Linked DNA regions of Homo sapiens: region 2 is linked to region 1. Evidence: fine-mapped QTL for protein levels in blood plasma. A gene starts in region 1. The other region holds a variant in brackets. All regions are shown on one strand. Distances are from middle to middle.

What was found. PIP is the chance, under the fine-mapping model, that this variant and not a neighbour inherited with it causes the effect. The UK Biobank Pharma Proteomics Project read protein levels with antibody pairs (Olink). The fine-mapping took linkage between variants from a reference panel, not from the people measured, so its PIPs are less certain.
Region 2: its variant is fine-mapped to the plasma level of the ACY3 protein (UK Biobank, PIP above 0.99).

What each region holds. Positions count from the first base shown.
Region 1 is chr11:67,647,786-67,661,315 of GRCh38, forward strand. It overlaps ACY3 (aminoacylase 3), which reads right to left and starts at 2,945. Exons shown (of 8, transcript NM_080658.2): 1 at 2,798-2,945. RefSeq lists enhancers at 327-406, 817-1,339, 867-1,286, 3,017-3,096, 3,167-3,226 and 1 more.
Region 2 is chr11:67,199,912-67,207,911 of GRCh38, forward strand. It overlaps KDM2A (lysine demethylase 2A), which reads left to right. Exons shown (of 21, transcript NM_012308.3): 6 at 7,599-7,777. Among named protein-coding and RNA genes, the nearest start is that of GRK2, 63 kb to the right of the region's middle. The variant T/C (reference allele first, on the strand shown) is at 4,289.

The DNA.
Region 1 (13,530 bases):
CCCTTCGTCCTTCTGCTGGGCCCCAGAGGGGCCACCTTCCTTAACACTACTAAGAGGTACACCCGCAGTGGGGTGGTGACTTGGTTTTGGTCACCACCAGAGCAGGCTATTGAAAGTTACTATAGAGGTGTCACCTTGATGGCCACCAAGATGACAAGCTGCCCCTCCTTCACCACCTCGGCAACATGCCTCTGTCCTTGCAGCCCGGAGAGGGCTGTGGTCACTCCTGAGTCGCCCTTACCCAAAGGTGCCATGTGGAGCCCCAGTTTTACAGCTCTTTGTTGCTTTAAGCAAAATTTTAAAATGTTTGATCCGGGATTTCAGTCATTTTCAAGGACAGTGTAACTCAGATGACTCGGTTTGCCCTGTTTTGGGAACAACCCTCAGGCTCATTTTATAGATGTGAAAACTGAGGCTCAGAAAATTGTCTGCAGGCACACAAGCCCTAGAGGCAGGCTGCAGGTGGCCCACAGAACCCTAGGGGCAGACTGTTCAGCGGCACACAGAGCCCTAGAGGCGGGCTGCAGGTGGCGCACAGAGCCCTAGAGGCGGGCTGTAGGTGGCACTCAGTGCGTCCAATGTGGCTCCATCCCCTCCTGCTGCCTCTCAAGAGCAAAGTGGGGAAGGATGAAGGTGAGGTCCCCTGCACTCAGCCCTGGGGCCTCTACCTCCCACCAGGCTCAGCTGTCTGCTGGGAGGAGCTGAGGCCAGTTCCGAAGTCACTGGGGAGTGAGGCAAGCTGCTCCGCCAGGGCCTGCTGGATGCCAGGTGCTGGGACCCTGAGCTGGAGCCTCCCCCAGGCATCGATCCTGGGCCTTCTTTACCACCACACTGGGTCTCCCCGGGCCAGTCCAGCCCTGCTCCAGATGCCAGGCCCACCAGCCTGGGGGGCTCTGGGTGGCCAGGACCCTCTAAGTTACACCCTCTCGGAAGCTGCCCCAGATCACACTCAGCTCTGTGTGGCCTGGGCTCTCCTGCCCTCCACACCCAAGGCTTCGTGAGCTCAGAGCATGGCGATTGTGGGGACAGGGGATTTGTCATCCTGGCTCCCATCAGGGCAGCTGGGATCTTGACAGGGTGTCAAGAGGGGTGGATGGAGTGTGAGGCTGAGCCCCCAGTGGGCCGGGGCTCCCTATGAGCCCCCTCCAGGGGCCACTCCTCCTGGCACCTGGAGCCTCAGCAAAGGGAGGGCAGAGACTGCCATTAGGGGGCCATGCCATGCCATCAACTCCTGTATCCGGCCCAGCCCTGGGGGCAGCTGTCACCGGCTCCATTTTGCAGGTGTGGACTGAAGCTCTAGGGGTTGGGTGACTTGACTGAGTCCTTGGCAGGTGGTGGGAGAGGGAGTCAGCAGAGGAGCCTGTCGGCCTGGGTCTGTTCCTTCCTTGCTTGGGGTAGGGGTCTCAGGGACCCCCATGCTGCTTTATGAGTCCCAGGCCATGGTCTTTGTTGGAAGGCCCCCCCAACCCCCACAGAGGCTGGGATCCTGCTGACTCGGTGTGGTACCTCTCAGGAAGGAAGGGCCTCCGTGGCAGACCTAGCTATTTTGGGGGCTGCTGGGGGCCAGGGTGCTTCCTGCCACAAGGTGCTGGGCCCCCAAGTTTAGGGAGAACAGCAGTAGGGGTGCTGGAAAGTTTCACTTCCCTTGGCTGGGGTCCAGCTTCTGCATTTCAGTGAGTGTTTATGGAACAGAACGGGGTCCAGGAACCCTCAGAAACAGCAGCCCCCAGTCCTGGCAGTGTGTGCGCGTGTGTGCATGTGTGTGCATGCATGTGTGCATCTGTACATGTGTGCGTGTGCATGAGAGCATGTGTGTGCGTGTGTGCACTCACATGTGTACGTGACAGCATGCGTGTGTGCGTGCGTGTGTACATGTGTGTGCATGTGCATGAGTATTGTGTGCATGTGTGCATGTATGTGTACATGTGTGCGTGTGTGCATGAGAGCATGTGTGCGTGTGTGCGCATGTGTGACAGCATGCATGTGTGCGTGTGTACGTGTGTGCATGTGCATGAGAGTATTGTGTGCATGTGTGCATGCATGTGTGTGTACATGTGTGCGTGTGTGCATGAGAGTGTGTGTGCATGTGTGTGCATGTGTGCATGTGCTTGAGAGCGTGTGTGCGTGCATGTGCGTGAGCATGTGTGCGTGTGTGTGTGTTGTGTGCACACGTGTGACCTGGCTCTGGCCCCACCTCCCTGACAGGCTGTGTGACCTGGAGAGATTCAGTGCCCTCTCTGGGCCTTGGCTCCACCCTGTGAAAGTCCTGGCCAAGGGCAGCTGTGGGGAGTGAGGAACAAAGGGCGGGCACAAGCTTGAAAATGGGCACATGGAGACCCCAGCATGAGTGAGGGCAGAGGATGGTGATGTCATGGGCATCATCACGGGGGCCAATTTCCTCACTGCAGTTGGGGAAACTGAGACCCAGAGAGGGGTCAGAGCTGTGGTTCCCCCCTGTGTCAGCATCCAATTAGATCATGCCTCCCAGCATCACCTCATTGCAAGATGCAATCAGATCACGCCTCATTACCCTATGCTTATAAAACCTGCCCCAGCCCTCAGCTCGGGGAGACACTGCTTTGGGAGCTGTCTAGGTGTTCTCCTTACTTGTTGCAAGAAATAAAATCCCCTATTAAATCCTCTTTAGTTAACACCCGCCAAGCAACTGAGCCCACCCGTTGTGTGGGTAACAAAACTCTGGCGACCCAGATGGGGCCGACTGGGATTCTGATCCTAACTTCTTGAGGCTCACTAAGGTAAAGCAGTGGGCCGCGGCACCTTCCCCGGGCGAACTCACCCACGTGGCCCCAGAGGGTTGAGGGTGACTCCCGGGGATCTTCTGCTTGCTGCGTGGCCCGTGGGGCTGTCACTCCGCCCTACCCCCGAAACAGCGGAAGCAGCTGCCTGGAGCTTTTGTTCTGTGCTGCTCCTTCAGGGAAGAAAGTGGACTTTGCCCCGTGGGTTGACTGAAAGGGTAAATTCTTTGGACCTAGCAGTGGGATCTCTAGACTTCAGCGCAGGGCACCTCTGCTTTCGGTTTCTGTCTGGCTCTACGTGCCGTGGGGGATTGAGAGGCATCTCTGGCCAGGCCAAGGGCAACCCGGATCCCGGATCTGGGTAGACAACAGTGGGACTAGTTTTGGGAATTCGTTTTTTTTTTTTTGAGACAGAGTCTGGCTCTGTCACCCAAGCTGGGGTGCAGTGGCGCGATCTCGGCTCACTGCAAGCTCCACCTCCCGGGTTCACGCCATTCTCCTGCCTCAGCTTCCTGAGTAGCTGGGACCACAGGCGCCCGCCACCACGCCCGGCTAATTTTTTGCATTTTTAGTAGAGACGGGGTTTCACCGTGTTAGCCAGGATGGTCTCGATCTCTTGACCTCGTGATCCGCCCGCCTCGGCCTCCCAAAGTGCTGAGATTACAGGCGTGAGCCACCGCGCCCAGCATGAGAATTTGTTCTTTTTTAGAGAAACAGAATTTTTCACAGGAGGCTGAGCTGCTCCATCTCCCAGAGCCCCTACTTGCCATACCCCGGGTTACCAGAAACAGGAGCTCTGCCATTTGATGAAAAAAATACTTTTTTCAGATAAATGTTTTTGTCATATCATCACACAAAGCGGGTAAAGTTGTATATATATACATACAACTTTTTACAAATATGTGATCATATGTACAAAGGCTAGAAGGAAATATACAGAAAAATATGTATTAAAATACTGGTTTTTTTTCATTGTTTTATAAGATACTCTACAAAACATTACAATGAGGTAGGACTATTTTAGTGCTAGAGAATCTCATTAAATGAATTTGTTCAAGAGCTTCTTTGTCAGCTGGGTGCAGTGGCTCACACCTGTAACCCCAACACTTTGGGAGGCCAAGGGGGGCAGATTGCTTGAGCCTAGGTGTTCAAGACCAGCCTGGGCAACATAGGGAGACCCTGTCTCTACCAAAAAAAAAAAAAAAATTAGGGTGGGCGCGGTGGCTCACACCTATAATCCCAGCACTTTGGGAGGCTGAGGCGAGTGGATCACCTGATGTCAGGAGTGTAAGACCAGCCTGGGCAACATGGCAAAACCCCGTCTGTACTAAAAATACAAAATTTATCCAGGCATGGTGGTGGGTGCCTGTAATCCCAGCTACTTGGGAGGCTGAGGCATGAGGCAGAGGTTGCAGTGAGCCGAGATCATGCCATTGCACTACAGCCTGGGCGACAAGAGCGAAACTCTGTCTCAAAAAAAAAAAAAAAAAAAAATTAGCCAGGTGGTGGCACACACAGCTGTGGCCCCAGCTACTCAGGAGGCTGAGGCGGGAGAATCACTTGAGCACGGGGAGTTGGAGGTAATCGTACCGTGAGTACAGTGAGCCGTTATCGTATGGCTGCATTCCAGGCTAGACAACACAGTGAGACCTTGTCTCAAAAGAAAATAAATAAATAAATAAATAAATAAATAAATAAATAAATAAATAAAGAGCTTCTTTGTCAATATCCTTTTGTGGGTATACATCATAGTCCCACAGTACTTCTTCAACCCAGGGAGATAAATGTGTATTAGTCTGAAGACCCAGGAGAGAATCTTCAAGACTTGGCACTGTCACTGATGATGATCTGCTTCCTTACATTATGACAAATGTATTCCCAGCTCCGGCTTGTTCTGCCTCATTAAGAGAATATTTGAAGACATTATTCATGATAGCAGCATCAGCATTTTGCAGAAGAAACCCTGGGGACAGATGTCTGCATGAAGCACCTTTATTCTGTGAATAAACTGGTATTTTTTAATGACCATTTCCTGCAACTGGCAAAAGTCTCCGTTCAGTTCTACTCCACAGGGTTGCACTGCTAAGCTATAAGATCACCCCATAAAGACTGTGCTGAGCCTGGAGCTGACGTCAGCCACAGCCTTTCCTGATTGATCAGGGAGTGCATGAAGATAAATGAACTTCAATTCCATGAGGGAGAAGGAACGAGCAATCGGTCTAAAGGTTCTGTTTGGTGTGAACCACCCAGTAGTTTCTGCTCATTTTCCCTTTGTCACATAATGAATCAATGAAGTCTTTATCACAAAGGAATGCGTCAGCGTGAATGGTGGGTTCTGGCTGCTGCTGTAGTTTTTGAAGGGTTAGATGTTCTGAGGAAAGCATGGTTTCTAGAGGCAAGCAATTCTGAAGGTCTTCTGCAGTGGGTTTTTTTTTTTTTTAATTTTGAGACAAGGTCCGGCTCTGTCACCCAGGCTGGAGTGCAGTGGCTCGACTGTGGCTCACTGCAACCTCCAACTTCCAGGTTCAAGCAGTCCTCCCATCTCAGCCTCCCAAGTAGCTGAAACTACAGGCACGCACCCAGCTAATTTTTTTTTTGAGATGGGGTCTTGCTATGTTGTCCAGTCTGGTCTCAAACTCCTGAGCTCAAGTGATCCACCCCCTTCAGCCTCCTAAAGTGCTGAGATTACAGGCATAAGCCACCACACCCAACCTTTCTGCTGTGTTTTTAAACACAATGTCTTTATTTCCTTCAGTGAATTCATCAAAATCTCGGGCAGTTTGCATCTGCTGGAGCAGTGCCGGGCGGTCGGCAGAGCCACAGTATAGAGCAGTTACAAGATTTCCTGCCTTGCCGAGTGAAATCTATGCCTTCCAATTTTTTTTAATTAATTAATTTTTAAAAAATTAGATTGGTACAAAAGTAATTGCAGTTTTTGCCATTACTTTCAATGGCAAAAACAGCGGTTACTTTTGAACCAACCTAATATTATAGAGACAGGGTTTCACCATCTTACCTAGGTTGGTCTCGAACTCCTAAGCTCAAGTGATCCACCCACCTCGGCCTCCCAAAGCGTGGTGATTATAGGCATGAGCCACCATGCCCGCCCCTCCCCACCAATATATTTTTAAAACTAGTTGAGTGTGGGCCAAGAGTTGTGGGATCTGTGTCACCACCAATCCCGCCTCTAAGCTGCTGGGTGGGTAATATGGGAAAACAGTAATTGTAGCAGGACTCCAGTGGCAGAAGCCATGCGGATAAACTACAAAAAGCAGAAGGGACACTGGGGATGCTGACATCTCCATTGGTTGAGATTACCCTTAAGGTATTGAGCAACTGTGGCCAGGTCCAGGAAGGGCAAAAAAAAAACAAAAAACAAAAAACAAAAAGGCAACACAAGACAAGAAGCCATCGAGTCTCTTGGCTACAACCAGCCAGTACACAAGAAACAGTTCACTGCGGCCAGGCGTGGTGGCTCATGTCCGTAATCCCAGCACTTTGGGAGGCTGAGGCGGGAGGATCACCTGAGGTCAGGAGTTCAAGACCAGCGTGGCCAACATGGCTAACCCTGTCTCTACTAAAAATATAAAAAATTAGCCAGGCATGGTGGTGGGCACTTGTAATCCCAACTACTCGGGAGGCTGAAGCAGGAGAATCGCTTCAACCCAGGAAGCGAAGGTTGTAAGCTGATATCGCGCCATTGCACTCTAGCCTGTGCGACAAGAGCAAAACTCTTTCTTGAAAAAAACAAAAAACAAAAAAACAAAACAGTTCACTGGAGATGATCAGCCATAAGTAAGATCCCTAGGGACCCCACTGCCCGGCCAAAGGGCCTCCCGCCCTTGAGAACACAACAGTGTGCATATTGTAAACAAGAGGGCCATTGGGTACTAGAGTGTCCTAACTGTCCCCAGTGGGTAGGGAAAGAAACTTCCCCGTCAATCAGCCCACCAGATGCTACAGTTTGCTAATAGTGACCAGAAGTGATGGGACTTGGGGACTCCTCTATGATCTGGGAACCCCTAGATCGGGTAACAATTGCTGTGGGAGAGACTCACGGGTTTTCCGACACTAGAGCCAAATTTTTGCCTGTCTCCTTTCTACCGTGTTCTTCCTAAAATTTAGGAAAGGGCTTCTGCTGTATGGGAGAGATAAATTTTAGCTAAAATTGTTAGTTGGACGGAGACAGAGTTGGAACTGTCTTTTAAGTAGTGAATTTTACCTGACCCATGGCTAAACCTTTAAAAGTTAAAGCTATAGGATCGTTATTTGTATCTGGTAGTATGTACACGTCCGGTTATATTTGGCTATGGTACCGAATTGGCTTATAAAGAAATGAGTACTCATAAACTAAGCAAATAAGACCAAGTGCTTTTCAAGTTCACATGACAGTAATCTTTTGGTGAATGGAACTAGTCTAAAATTGTTGGTTTGATGGGAATGGTGTGCCTTCTGAAATGTAACTTAAAGGTTCTTACTTTTTTTTTTTTTTTTTTGAGACGGAGTCTCGCTCTGTCGCCCAGGCTGGAGTGCAGTGGCGTGATCTCGGCTCACTGCAAGCTCTGCCTCCCGGGTTCACGCCATTCTCCTTCCTCAGCCTCCCGAGTAGCTGGGACTACAGGCGCCTGCCACCACGCCCGGCTAATTTTTTGTATTTTTTTTTTTTTTTTAGTAGAGATGGGGTTTCACTGTGTTAGCCAGGATGGTCTTGATCTCCTGACCTCGTGATCTGCCCACCTCGGCCTCCTAAAGTGCTGGGATTACAGGCGTGAGCCACAGCATCCGGCCTTAAAGGTTCTTACTTTTATGATAGTTGCCTGACATCCAGCTATATAAAGGTAATTAACAGATAAATAATTTGAAATGATGACTAGCTTTGTCTAATATATCAGTTCTCATAAGTAATCCTGGTAAACTGCTAAAAATAAATAAAGTATGTAAAGGTAAATGGGATAAGTATCTATCGGCTTTTTAATGTAATTTGAAATCCTCTATTAGGTAATGGATACTCATTAACTATGTGAGTTATTTCCAAATAAGACAAAAACTGGAACAAATTGCTGACCATAAATATGTTTGCCCTGGGTCTCTTAAATTTAATATAAAGACTAAATATGTTTGGGCCTATAAATACGTATAAAAATTATGCTATAGGAAAACATGTTTTTCTAACAATTACAAAATGGCTCTTCCCCATAAAATACCAATATGTGATAGGAAGTTCAAGATTTTGTGCTTCCTATGTTTTCAACAAAATTTAAGGGAACTGGATGGGCACTGTGGCTCATGCCTGTAATTCCAGCACTTTGGGAAGCTGAAGCAGGAGGATCGTTTGAGATCAGGAGGTTCAGACCAGCCTGGGCAACATAGTGAAACTCTGTCTCTACTGAAAAACAAAAAAGAAAAAATTAGCCAGGGGTGGTGGCACATGCCTACTGTAGTCCCAGCTACTCAGGAGGCTGAGGTGGGAGGATCACTTGAGCCAGGGAGGTCAAGGCTCCAGTAAGCCAAAATCAATGCCACTGCACTCCAGCCTGGGTGATGGAGCACGACCTTGTTTCAAAAAAAGAAAAAAGATAATTAAAAACAAAAATTTAAGAGTACTAAGGGTTTTTAAAAATCCTAATATACAATTCTATATAGGAAGTGTGCCAAAAGTAAGGAGCACTTAATAAGAAAACAGTAAGAAAGGTATACAATATATTCTTTATTGAGAAAAAAAGTAATTTGTCTAATTTAGCTGTTATTTAAAGGGAGTTTTAAAATATGGATTTAGGAAAGAAATAGAAAAAAGATTAAAAGGAACCAGTAAGTAGATGAGACAGAGATGTAAAGAAAATTACAGATGTGAAGCAATGAGAGTAATTTTGTATAGGAAAGAAACTTGTGTGTTCAATCTCTGTCTTGGACTAAAATGACTAGACATTTAAGAAAGAGGAAGTACAGGGCAAGTCCAAGCATGCCACAGCTGTCTGAGTAAGTCATGATAAGGCTTGTGAATGGGAACTTATGATGGAAATGTTGGGTGTGATTAAATTGGCTGTAATTAAATGAAATGATTTGTAATAGTTTTTTTTTTTTTTGAGATGGAGTCTGGCTGTCTTGCTCATTTGCCAAGGCTGGAGTGCAGTGGTTCGATCTTGCCACACTGCAACTTGCATCTCCTGGGTTCAAGTGAGTCTCCTGCCTCAGCCTCCTGAGTAGCTGGGATTACAGGCGTGCACTACCATGCCTGGCTAATTTTCGTATATTCAGTAGAGATGGGGTTTCACCATGTTGGCCAGGCTGGTCTTGAACTCCTGACTTCAGGTGATCCTGGCCTCCCAACGTGCTGGGATTACAGGCATGAGCCACCATGCCTGGCCTGTAACAGTTTTTCTAGAGAATGAATTTGAATGTTAAAACACATGATACATAACTTACAATTTTGGTCCCCTGTGTTAAAACAACAGTGGTTTCGGCTGAGCGCAGTGGCTCATGCCTGTAATCCAGGCACTTTGGGAGGCCGAGGCAGGTGGATCATGAGGTCAGGAGATTTGAGACCAACCTGGCTAACATGGTGAAACCCCGTCTCTACTAAAAATACAAAATATTACCCAGGCTTGGGGGCGTGCACCTGCAGTCCCAGCTACTCAGGAGGCTGAGGCAGGAGAATGGCGTGAACCCAGGAGACGGAGCTTGCAGTGAGCCGAGATCACACCACTGCACTTCAGCTTGGGTGACAGAACGAGACTCCGTCTTAAAAACAAACAAACAAAAAACAGCAGTTTCTTAAGACATTAATTCACTCTTAGTAAAGTTCCAAGAGGTTTTGATATTTATTTCTAAAACCTGCTTCGTTAATAGCCATTCTCTGAATTACAAATTAGTTTCTGTTTCTGTCATATTCCTTCTTAAGATCAGTCTAATTTCTTTGGTTTCAGGTTTATCTCAAAGGTCTAGAAAAGCAGCTTTACGCCAGTATAAACTGATTCTGTGTTCTTGGTTTTTCTTAATGTGTCTGAGTTGTTTCATGTAACCAGGACTTCCCATGGTATTACTAATGTATTCCCCTGCTCACCAGCCTAGGAAACACAGATTGCTTAGGGAGACTGAGCTTTAAAGTGTTAAGGTTTTTCCATGCATGTAACTTTTCGTGTTGCTTTTGAATTCTTTTGATTGTCACTGTGGTTAAACGAGTAACTATTATTCGGCAGTGATCTCTGATTCTGTTGAAGGAAGCCATTTGAACTTTTTGACATCCTCTTTGGCAGAATTCCCCAGGATCCAAATCCTAAATTAAGCCATCTGGCCTAAAATCAACTTTGAGATTCTACCAAAAGGGCCTCCTGGAACAAGCCTCAAAGGTTTTGTCTCTGATCTTTTGGAGATATTAAATGATCAGGCTTACTTGGTAAATAATATGGGAAGCATTGTCAAATAGAAACGGTGTTTAACTTCCTTTAAGTAATGTTTGTGTAAGTGTGTCACTAACACAGGGGAAAAGGTTTGAGATTCCTAAAACTCTGATATGCCAAGATATGTGTCATGACTGTGATGGTTGTGTCACATGGTTGTATGCCAGAGAAATGCTGAAATTTCTGGCCGGGCACGGTGGCTCACATCTGTAATCCCAGCACTTTGGGAGGCCGAGGCGGGTGGATCACGAGGTTAGGAGATTGAGACCATCCTGGCTAACATGGTGAAACCCTGTCTTTACTAAAAATATAAAAAATTAGCCGGGCATGGTGGTGGGCACCTGTAGTCCCAGCTACTCGGTAGGCTGAGACAGGAGAATGGTGTGAACCTGGGAGGCGGAGCTTGCAGTGAGCTGAGAATGCGCCACTGCACTCCAGCCTGGGTGACAGAGTGAGACTCCGTCTCAAAAAGAAAAAGGAAAAAAAAAGAAATGCTGAAATTTCCTGTCAATTGTAAATTGTCATCAGATCTCTGACTGGCTGCTCTGGGCTTTTGTCACCCACAGTTAATTCTTATTTTTCAGTCAGGGTCTCACTCTATTGCCCAGGCTGGAGTACAGTGGCGTGATCACAGCTCACTTCAGCCTTAACCTCCCAGGCTCAAGTGATCCTCCCACCTCAGCTTCCTGAGTAGCTGGGACTACAGGGGTGCTCCACTGTGCCCAGCTAATTGTCTTTATTTTTTTATAAGGACAAGGTCTCATGTTTCCCAGGCTGGTCTCAAACTCCTGAGCTCAAGTGATTCTCCCGTCTTGGCTTCCCAAAATGCTGGGATTATAGGCGTGAGCCACCATGCCCTGCCACCCACAGTTGTTTTAAATTCTTCTCTGGAAGCATTCACAATTGGCTATGGTCCAAAATTGCTAATTAAGATTGAGCAAAACTGGCCAGGTGCAGTGGCTCACGCTTGTTGTAGGGTCCAGCCCTACAGGATATGTGGGTTTTTTCTCTTCATGTGTGGAGATGAGAGATGGTAGAAATAAATACACAAGACAAAGAGATAGAAGAAAACACAGCTGGGCCCAGGGGACCACTACCACCAAGGTGTGGAGACCGGTAGTGGCCCCAAATGCCTGACCGCACTGTTATTTATTGGATACAAGGTAAAAGGGGCAGGGTAAGGAGTGTGAGTCATCTCCAATGATTGATAAAGTCACGCGAGTGAAGTGTCCACCAGACAGGGGGCCTTTCCCTTTAGGTAGCCAAGGCGGAGAGACAGAGGACAGCTTACATCATTATTTCTTCTATGCTCTTCTCAGAAAGATCAAAGACTTTAATACTTTCACTAATACTGCTACTGCTATCTAGAAGGCAGAGCCAGGTGTACGGAGCATAACATGAATGTGAAACAGGAGCGTGACCGCTGAAGCACAGCATCACAGGGAGACAGGCCACCAGATGGCTGTAGGTGGGCCTGACTGATGTCAGGCCTTCCACAAGAGGTGGTGGAGCAGAGTCTTCTCTAACTCCCCCAGGAAAAGGGAGACTCCCTTTCCCAGTCTGCTAAGTAACGGGTGCCTTCCCCAGGCACTGATGCTACGCCTAGACCAAGGTCCGCTAGGTAATGGATGCCTTCCCAGGTGCTGGTGTTACCACTAGACCAGGGAGCCCTCTAGTGGCCCTGTCCAGGCGTAACAGAGGGCTCACACTCATCTGGTCACTTCTCACCGTGCCCCTTCAGCTCCTATCTCTGTATGGCCTGGTTTTTCCTGGGTTATAATTATAGAACAAAGATTATTATAATATTGGAATAAAGAGTGATGCTACAAACTAATGATTAATGATACTCATATACAATCATATCTATAATCTATTTCTAGTATAACTATTCTTATTCTATATATTTTCTTTATTATACTGGGACAGCTTGTGCCCTCAGTCTCTTGCCTTGGCACCTGGGTGGCTTGTCGCCCACACCTGTAATCTCAGCACTTGGGGAGGCCAAGGTGGATGGATCACTTGAGGCCAGGAGTTTGAGAACAGCCTGGCCAACAAGGTGAAACCCTGCCTCTACTAAAAATACAAAAAAATTAGCCTGGTGTGGTGGCGGGCAACTGTAATCCCAGCTACTCAGGAGGCTGAGGCAGGAGAATCGCTTGAACATGGGAGGTGGAGGTTGCAGTGACCCAAGATTGCACCACTGCCCTCCAGCCTGGGTGATGGAGCGAGACTCTGTCTTAAAAATAAATAAATAAAAAGATTGAGCAAAACAAAAATAATTACATGAAATTAAGTAATTGATATGAATAATGTTTTTATGACTTAAATGTGAGACTATCACCTCATTTTGTTTTGCAGATTCAAGGAAATTTTCTGTCATAACCTGCCTATAGTTTGTGAGGACTAAACTCTGATTTTTTTTGTTCTTATTTTGCTCAAATTCCTCCCTAAGGGGCCTGGGGAGTCACACCCTACAAACCATAAAGTCTCATCAGAGAGGCTTTAATTTTAACCCTATAGCGTGGTCTGCTTTCTGACCTGACTCTGGCATAACCTCACATAACAAATAAGAGAAGAAATCAAAATATTTTAACCCCAAATATATTTGCTTGCCATATCTTGAAACTGCCCTGCAAAGTTGTCTCCTGTGGAAAAAATCTACATTCTGTAGAGAATCCCATTTTCCCTTTTTTCTAACTTCTTTCCAGATCCAGGAGATAATCAACTAAGAACCAGGCACCCTTTTATGTTAGATAAGAAACACTTCAGGCCAGTGCAGTGGCTCACACCTGTAATCCCAGCTCTTTGGGTGGCCGAGGCATGTGGATCACTTGAGGTCAGGAGTTCAAGACCAGACTGGCCAACGTGATGAAACCCTGTCTCTACAAAAATACAAAAATTTGCCAGGCGTGGTGGTGCACGCCTGTAATCCCAGCTGCTCAGGAGGCTGAGGCAGGAGAATCACTTGAACGCAGGAGGGAGAGGTTGCAGTGAGCTGAGATCACTCCACTGCACTCCAGCCTGGGCAACACAGCAAGACCCCATCTCAAAAAAAAAAAAAAAAAAGAAAAAGAAAGATTTTACAGCCTACTATCTGAGAGCTTCCTCTGCACAATAAAACTTGGTCTCCACAATCCTTTATCTTAACATGAACATTTCCTTTGTGTTGATCCCAGGTCTTCAGATAAACTCAACCAATTGTCAACCAGGAAAATTTTAAATGTACCTATAGCCTGGAAGCCCCTGCTTTGAGTTGTCCCATCTTTCTGGACCAAACCAACATATATCTTGCACGTATTGATTGATGCGTCACGTCTCCCTAAAATGTATAAATCCAAGCTGTGACCTGACAGTCTTGGGTACATGTTCTCAGGATC
Region 2 (8,000 bases), 450 kb before region 1:
AGGGGCTAATGCAGCTGGTGATTTTAATTGGAAACCAAATTTAACATTCCAAAAAAAGCTTATTTACCATTCCAAAATCCTAGGGCCCTTAAGAATTATGCTAAATCTACTCTATTAATGGAACAACAAAGCCTAGATGATATCACATCTGTTTTACAGCATGGTTTACTGAATTTATTAAGCCCACTGTGGAGATCTGCTCAGGAAAAAAGGTTCCTTTCAAAATGTTACTGCTCACTGGCAGTGTACCTCTTCACCCAAGACCTCTGATGGGAATGTACAAAGAGATTAATATTGTTTGTGTGGTTTTTTTTTTTCTTTTTAGACGGAGTCTCTCTCTGTTGCCCAGGCTGGAGTGCAGTGGCACGATCTCAGCTCACTGCAAGCTCCACCTCCTGGGTTCACGCCATTCTCCTGTCTCAGCCTCCCGAGTAGCTGGGACTACAGGCGTCCGCCACCACGTCCGGCTAATTTTTTTCGTATTTTTAGTAGAGATGGGGTTTCACCATGTTAGCCAGGATGATCGCGATCTCCTCACCTCATGATCCGCCCGCCTCAGCCTCCCAAAGTGCTGGGATTATAGGCGTGAGCGACCGTGCCCAGCCTGTTTGGTTTTTTAAGACAAGGTCTCATTCTGTTGCCCAAGTTGGAGTGCAATGGTACAATCATGGCTCACTGCAGGCTCAGTGTCCCTGGGCTCAGGTGATCCTTCCACCTCAGCCTTTAGCTGGGACTACAAGCACATGCCAACACACCCAGTTAATTTTTGTGTTTTGGTAGAGACACAGTTTGACCCTGTTACCCAGGCTGGTTTAGAACTCCTGGGCTCAAGGGATTTGCCTGCCTCAGCTTCCCAAAGTGCTGGGATTACAGGCATGAGCTACCATGCCTTGCCTGAGATTAATACCGTTTTCATGCCAGATAGCAGTATTCATTCTGTGGCCCATGGATCAAGGAGTAATCTCAACTTTAGTCTTATTATTTAAGAAATATATTTCATGGCCTGGCACAGTGGCTCACACCTGTAATCCCAGCACTTTGGGAGGTCGAGGCGGGTGGATCACGAGGTCAGGAGATTGAGACCATCTGGCTAACACGGTGAAACCCAGTCTCTACTGAAAATAGAAAAAAAATTAGCCGGGCGTGGTGGCGGGCGCTTGTAGTCCCAGCTACTGGGGAGGCTGAGGCAGGAGAATGGCGTGAACCCGGGAGGCGGAGCTTGCAGTGAGCCGAGATTGCACCACTGCACTACAGCCTGGGCGACTGAGCAAGACTCTGTCTCAAAAAAAAAAATATATATATATATATGTGTGTGTGTGTGTGTATATATATATATTTCATAAGGCTATAGCTGACATAGTGATTCTGCTGGTAAATCTGGACCAAATAAATTGAAAAACATCTGGAAAGGATTCACCACTGTAGATGCCATTAAGAACATATTTATGGCCAGGCATAGTGGCTCATGTCTGTAATCCCAATGTTTTGATAGGCCCAGGTGGTGGATCCCTTGAGGCCAGGAGTTTGAGACCAGCCTGGGAAACATAGTGAGACCATCTCTACAAAAAATTAGCCATGGCCCGGTGCGGTGGCTCACGCCTGTAATCCTAGCAGTTTGGGAGGCCAAGGTGGGCAGATCACAAGTCAGGGGTACAAGACCAGCCTGACCAGTATGGTGAAACCTGGTCTCTACTAAACATACAAAAATTAGCCGAGTGTGGTGGCATGGGCCTGTAGTCCCAGCTACTTGGGAGGCTGAAGCAGGAGAATCACTTGAACCTGGGAGACGGAGGTTGCAGTGAGCCAAGATCACACCACCCCACCACACTCCAGCCTAGGCAACAGAGCTAGACTCCATCTCAAAAAAAAAAAAAAAAAAAAAAAAAAAAAAAAATTAGCCATGCTTGGTGGTGTACACCTGTAGTCCCAACTATTTGGGTGGCTGAGGTGGGAGGATCACTTGAGCCCAGGAATTCGAGGTTGCAATGAGCTCTGATCTTGCCACTCTATTCCAGCCTGGGCATGAGAGTGAGACCCTGTCTCTAAAAAAAATAATTAAAATGAAAAAGAGCATTTGTGGTACATGGGAGGAGGTCAAAATATCAACATTAACAGGAGTTTGGAAAAAGTTGGTTCCCACCCTTATTGATGACTTTGAGGGGTTCAAGACTTCAGTGGAGGAAGTAACTGCAAATGTGGTGAAAATAGTGAGAGAGCTAGAATTAGAAATGGAGTCGAAGATGCGACTGAATTGCTGCAATCTATAATGAAACTTGAGCAGATGGAAGAGTTGCTTCTTATGGATGAGCAAATAAAGAAGTTTGTTTTTTTAAGATGGAATCTACTCCTGGTGGAGATGCTGTAAACATTGTTAAAATAACAAGGTATTTAGGATATTACATAAAGTGAGTTTATAAAGCAGCAGTAGGGTTTGAGAGGATTGACTCCAATTTTGAAAGACGTTCTACCATGGGTAAAATGATATCAAACAGCATTGCATGCTACAGAGAAGTCTCTTTGTGAAAGGAAGTATCAATCCATGTTGCAAACTTTATTGTTGTCTTATTTTAAGAAATGTCAGCTGGGCATGGTGGCTCACGTCTGTAATCCTAGCACTTTGGGAGGCTGAGGCGGGTGGATCACAAGGTCAGGAGATTGAGACCATCCTGGCTAACATGGTGAAACCCCGTCTCTACTAAAAATACAAAAAAAAAACTAGCCAGGCATGGTGGCAGGCACCTGTAGTCCCAGCTACTCAGGAGGCTGAGGCAGGAGAATGGCGTGAACCCAGGAGGCGGAGCTTGCAGTGAGCCGAGATCGCGCCACTACGCTCCAGCCTGGGCGACAGAGCGAGACTTCGTCTCAAAAAAAAAAAAGAAAAGAAATTGTCGACCCGAGAAACAGCGAGATCTTGTATCGGCAAAAATTAAAGGATTAGCCAGCCATTGTGGCACGTGCCTGTAGTCCCAGCTACTCCGGAGGCTAAGGTGGAAGGATTACCAGAGTCCAGGAGTTTGTGGCTGTGGTGAGCTGTGATTGCACCAGTGCACTCCAGCCTGGGCAACAGAGCAAGACCCTGTCCGTCCGCCGCCAAAAAAAAAAAAAAAGAAAAACGGTTTACACTTCAGCGAAAGAAAAAGAAGTTGCTATATCCACCCCAACCTTCAGCAACCACCACCACTCTGATCAGTCAGCAGCCCTCAACAATGAGGCAAGTTCCTCCACAGGCCAAGATTATGACTCACTGAAGGCTCAGATGATTGTTAGCATTTTTAGCAATAAAGTATTTTTAAATAAAAGTATGTACCTTGTTTTTTAGATACAGTGCTGTTGTACACTTAATAGCCTACAGTATAATGTAAATATATGCACTGTGAAACCAAAAAGTTTTGTATGACTTGCTTACTGGAATAGTTGCTTTATTGCAATGATCTGGAACTGAACCCACAATATCTCCAAGATATGGTTATACTAAGTAGTCTGAAAATACAAAATAGTCTAGTAATAAATAGTCTATAATAAATAATATATTAATATAATTATATTTATTAATTATTAATAATTATTAATATATATTAATATATTTTTATATAATATATAATATAAAATATATAATAAATAAGTAGTCTAGTAATAAAAGAATACCAGCCTGGGCAACATAGTGAAACCTTGTCTTTACCAAAAATACAAAAAATTAACTGGGTATGGTGGCATGCACTGTAGTCCCAGCTACTCAGGAGGCTGAGGTGGGAGGATCACTTGAGCCTGGGAGGCAGAGGTTGCATTGAGTCTAGATTGTGCCACTGCACTCCAGCCTGGGTGACAGAGTGAGGCCCCATCTCAAAAGGAAAAAAGAATAAAATGCTTTCCTCTACATTCTTTTTTTTTTTTTTCTTTTTTCTTTTTAAGACAGAGTCTTGCTGTGTCGCCCAGGTCCGGAGTGCAGTGGTGCGATCTTGGCTCACTGCAACCTCTGCCTCTTGAATTCAAGCAAATCTCTTGCCTCAGCCTCCTAAGTAGCTGGGACTATGGCCGCGTACCACCACGCCCAGCTAATTTTTGTATTTTTAGTAGAGATGGGGTTTCACCATGTTGGCCAGGCTGGTCTCAAACTCCTGACCTCAAGTGATCTGCCCGCCTCGGCCTCCCAAAGTGCTGAGATTACAGGCGTGAGTCACCACACCTGGCCTCCCCTACATTCTTGAAGGAAAGCATTTACTTGTTATTTCTTAAATTATGGTTAAATACAGGTAATATAAAGTTTACCATCATAACCATTACGTTTTTT[T/C]CTTTTTGCATAGAACATTTCATTGTCATGTACCCATTTTAAAGCATACCAGTGTCATCAAGTTTTTTCACAGTGTGCAACCATCACCACTATCTAGTTCTAGAATTTCATCACCCCAAACAAACTCCATACCTTTGAGCAGTCATTCTCCGTTTTCTCCTCCACTTAACTCCTGGCAACAACAAATCTATTCTGTCTTGGTGAATTTGTCTAATCTGTATATTTCATATAAATGGAACTATATAATATGTAGCCTTTTGTGTAGGCTTCTTTGATACAGTGTGTTTTCTTTTTTCTTTTTTTTTTTTTTGAGACAGAGTCTCACTGTGTTGCCCAGGCTGGAGTGCAGTGGTGTGATCTCTGCTTACTGCAAGCTCCGCCTCCTGGGTTCATGCCATTCTCCTGCCTCAGTCTCCCGAGTACCTGGGACTACAGGTGCCTGCCACCACACCTGGCTAATTTTTTGTATTTTTAGTAGAGATGGGGTTTCACCGTGATAGCCAGGATGGTCTTGATCTCCTGACCTCGTGATCCACCCACCTCGACCTCCCAAAGTGCTGGGATTACAGGCGTGAGCCACCAAACCCAGCTGATACAGTGTGTTTTCTTGGTATATCCATGTTGTAGCATGTATTAGTACTTCATTCCTTTTTATGGTCGACTATTTCCTTGTATGGATCAACCACATTTTGTTTATTCATATCATGGTAAACATTTGTGTTATTTCCATCTTTTAGCTGTTTTAAATAGTGCTGCAGTGAATATTTATGTACAAGCTTTTGTTTGAACACCTTGTTCAATTCTTTTAGATATATGCCTAGAAGTGGAATTGCTGAGTCACATGGTCATTCTGTGTTTAGTTTATTGAGGAACTGCAAATCCAATTTCCATAGCGGCTGCACCATCTTATATTCCCACCAGTAGATGTATGAGGGTTCCAATTTCTCTGCATTTTTGCTAGCACTCATTATTTTCCATTTTTTAAATTATAGCGATCCTAGTGGGTGTGAAGTGGTATTTCTTGGCAGTTTTGATTTGACATTCACTTTTTCTTTTAAAATATGAAGTGTAGGTTCTGTCCATTGCCTTACATTATTAGTTATGTTTTACTAGTAATATATATATTCTGCCTTGTCTATTTCACAGTGGCCATATTCTTCTCTTGGGTATTATCTCCTATCTTTAACTAAGCTATAAATTCCTTAGAGACAGGGTATCAGGTTCTAATGCTACCTGATACATCCAGCCAGGGCAGGTGTTTGTTCGTCTTACAAGGAAGACAATAGATATAAATTTTTTTTTTCTACAGCCTCGACCTCCTGGGCTCAGGTGATTCTCACACCTCACCCTCCCGAGTAGCCGGGATTACGGGCACGCACCACCATGCCCAGCTAATTTTTTGTATTTGTATTTGTATTTTTTTGTTTTGTGTGTGTGTATGTTTAATTTTTTTTGTATTTTTAGTAGAGACGGTGTTTTGCTATGTTACCCAGGCTGGTCTCAAACTCCTGGACAGAAGCTGTCTGCCCGTCTTGACCTCCCAGAGTGATGGGATTATAGATGTGCACCACCGTGCCCGGCCAGACATACAATATTGTCAGCTTTTTATTTTCTCTCCCTTCCTTGACCACCATTTTCTGAATCTTTTAGCTTATATTTTACCTCTGCATGGAATTGTCCCTGTTGAATCATCTCTTGTTAGAATTCTACTTATTCTTCTCCCTCTTTTCCTAAAGCCTTTTCTGATCAGTCTAATAAAAATATGATACTTCCCTTTTGTTTTTACTGCCGCTTGAGCACCTACTTTGTATTAAACATTTTACTTTATCGACTTTAAATCTTCACAGTGGCCCACAAGGTGATACTCATTCTCCACAAGATATTAATGTTCAGAGAAATTATATAACTTGTCTAAGTAGTATAGGAGCTGAGATTTAAACTTAGGTCTCAGGCAGGTGCAGTGGCTCACATGTGTAATCCCAGCATTTTGGAAGGCCAAGGCGGGCAGATCAGCTGAGGTCAGGAGTTTGAGACCAGCCTGGCCAACATGGCAAAACGCTGACTTTACCAAAAATACAAAAATTAGGCAGGCGTGGTGGCACACGGCCATATTCCCAGCTACTTGGGAGGCTGAGGCACAAGAATCTCTTGAACCTGGGAGGTGGAGGTTGCAGTGAGCCAAGATTTCGCACCACTGCACTCCAGCCTGGGTGACACAGCGAGACTGTCTCAAAATAAAATTAAAGAAATAAATAGGCTGGGCATGGTGGCTCACGCCTGTAATCCTAGCACTTTAGGAGGCCAAGACAGGCGGATTGCCTGAGCTCAGGAGTTGGAGGCCATCCTGGGCAACATGGTGAAACCCCGTCTCTACTAAAATACAAAAAATTAGGTGGGGTAGTGGCGTGTGCCTGTAGTCCCAGCTACTGTGGAGGTTGAGGCAGGAGAACTGCTTGAACCCAGGAGGTGGGAGGTTGCAGTGAGCCGAGAGCGTGCCACTGCACTCCAGCCTGAGCGACAGAGCGAGACTCCGTCTCTAAAAAATAAATAAACAAACTTAGGTCTCTTTGACTCCAAAGCTATTGTTTTCTCTCCACTACTATTTTATGCTGACTCTTGTGGCCTTATGCGTTTTGTTGTAGTTGTTATAGTTAACAAGAATCTGATATAGATTTTCGTGTCCATCCTGGTGTCTTTATCATTCTATAAATATTTGTGGAATAAATGAAAAGGGGACTTTGTTCTTCATGAACTAGGATAATTATCTTCATGGGCTAGGATATTAGCAACAGGTTTGCGAAATAGCCCTGTTTAACAAAAGAATATAAATTCAAAATCAGTCTGTTACCCACTAAATTATGGATACTTCATTCAAATTATGAGATAGATTAGGTCAACCTGCATCAAATCAGTATAGATCAGTAAGTAAGAGCTTGACTCTAGAGTGAGCCTGCCCCGGTTCTTTTCCTGCTTTGTTCTGTAAGTTACCTAACATCTGCTTTCTCATGTATGAAGTGGAGATTAGTATTTAGCATTTAGAATTGTTAGGATTAAATGAGACATTAGATAAAAGAGTCAACAACTGACTGTATAGTAAACATGCCTTAGGGAATAATTATTATTAACATTATCCATTGTCTTTCCCATTCTTTGTGATTTGATTATGATTGTTGAGTGAGAACTTTTTCCTTGTGTATTATTGAAAATAAGAAAGGACAGTATTTTTTCTTCTACTTTTTAAAAAATATTCTTACTATATTTAAGGATATTAGTGGCTCGATAGAGATGATCGATGCATCTTTTATGGCAGGGAGTCGTCGCATGGTGGATGTCATGGACGTGAACACACAGAAAGGCATTGAAATGACCATGGCTCAGTGGACACGCTACTATGAGACCCCAGAGGAGGAGCGAGAGAAACTCTATAATGTCATCAGCCTCGAGTTTAGCCACACCAGGCTGGAGAATATGGTGCAGAGGCCCTCCACGGTTAGTGTAATCATTTTCTTCATATTGTCATTGTCACCAAAAGGGTTGTTTTCGGCTGGACGTTGGTAACTGATGCTTGTTATCCCAGCACTTTGGGAGGCCAAGGGAGGCAGATCGCTTGAGCTGAGGAGTTTGAGAGCAGCCGGGGCAACATGGTGAAACCACATCTCTACAAAAAGTACAAAAAAAAAAATTAGCTGGGTGTGATGGCACATGTCTGTAG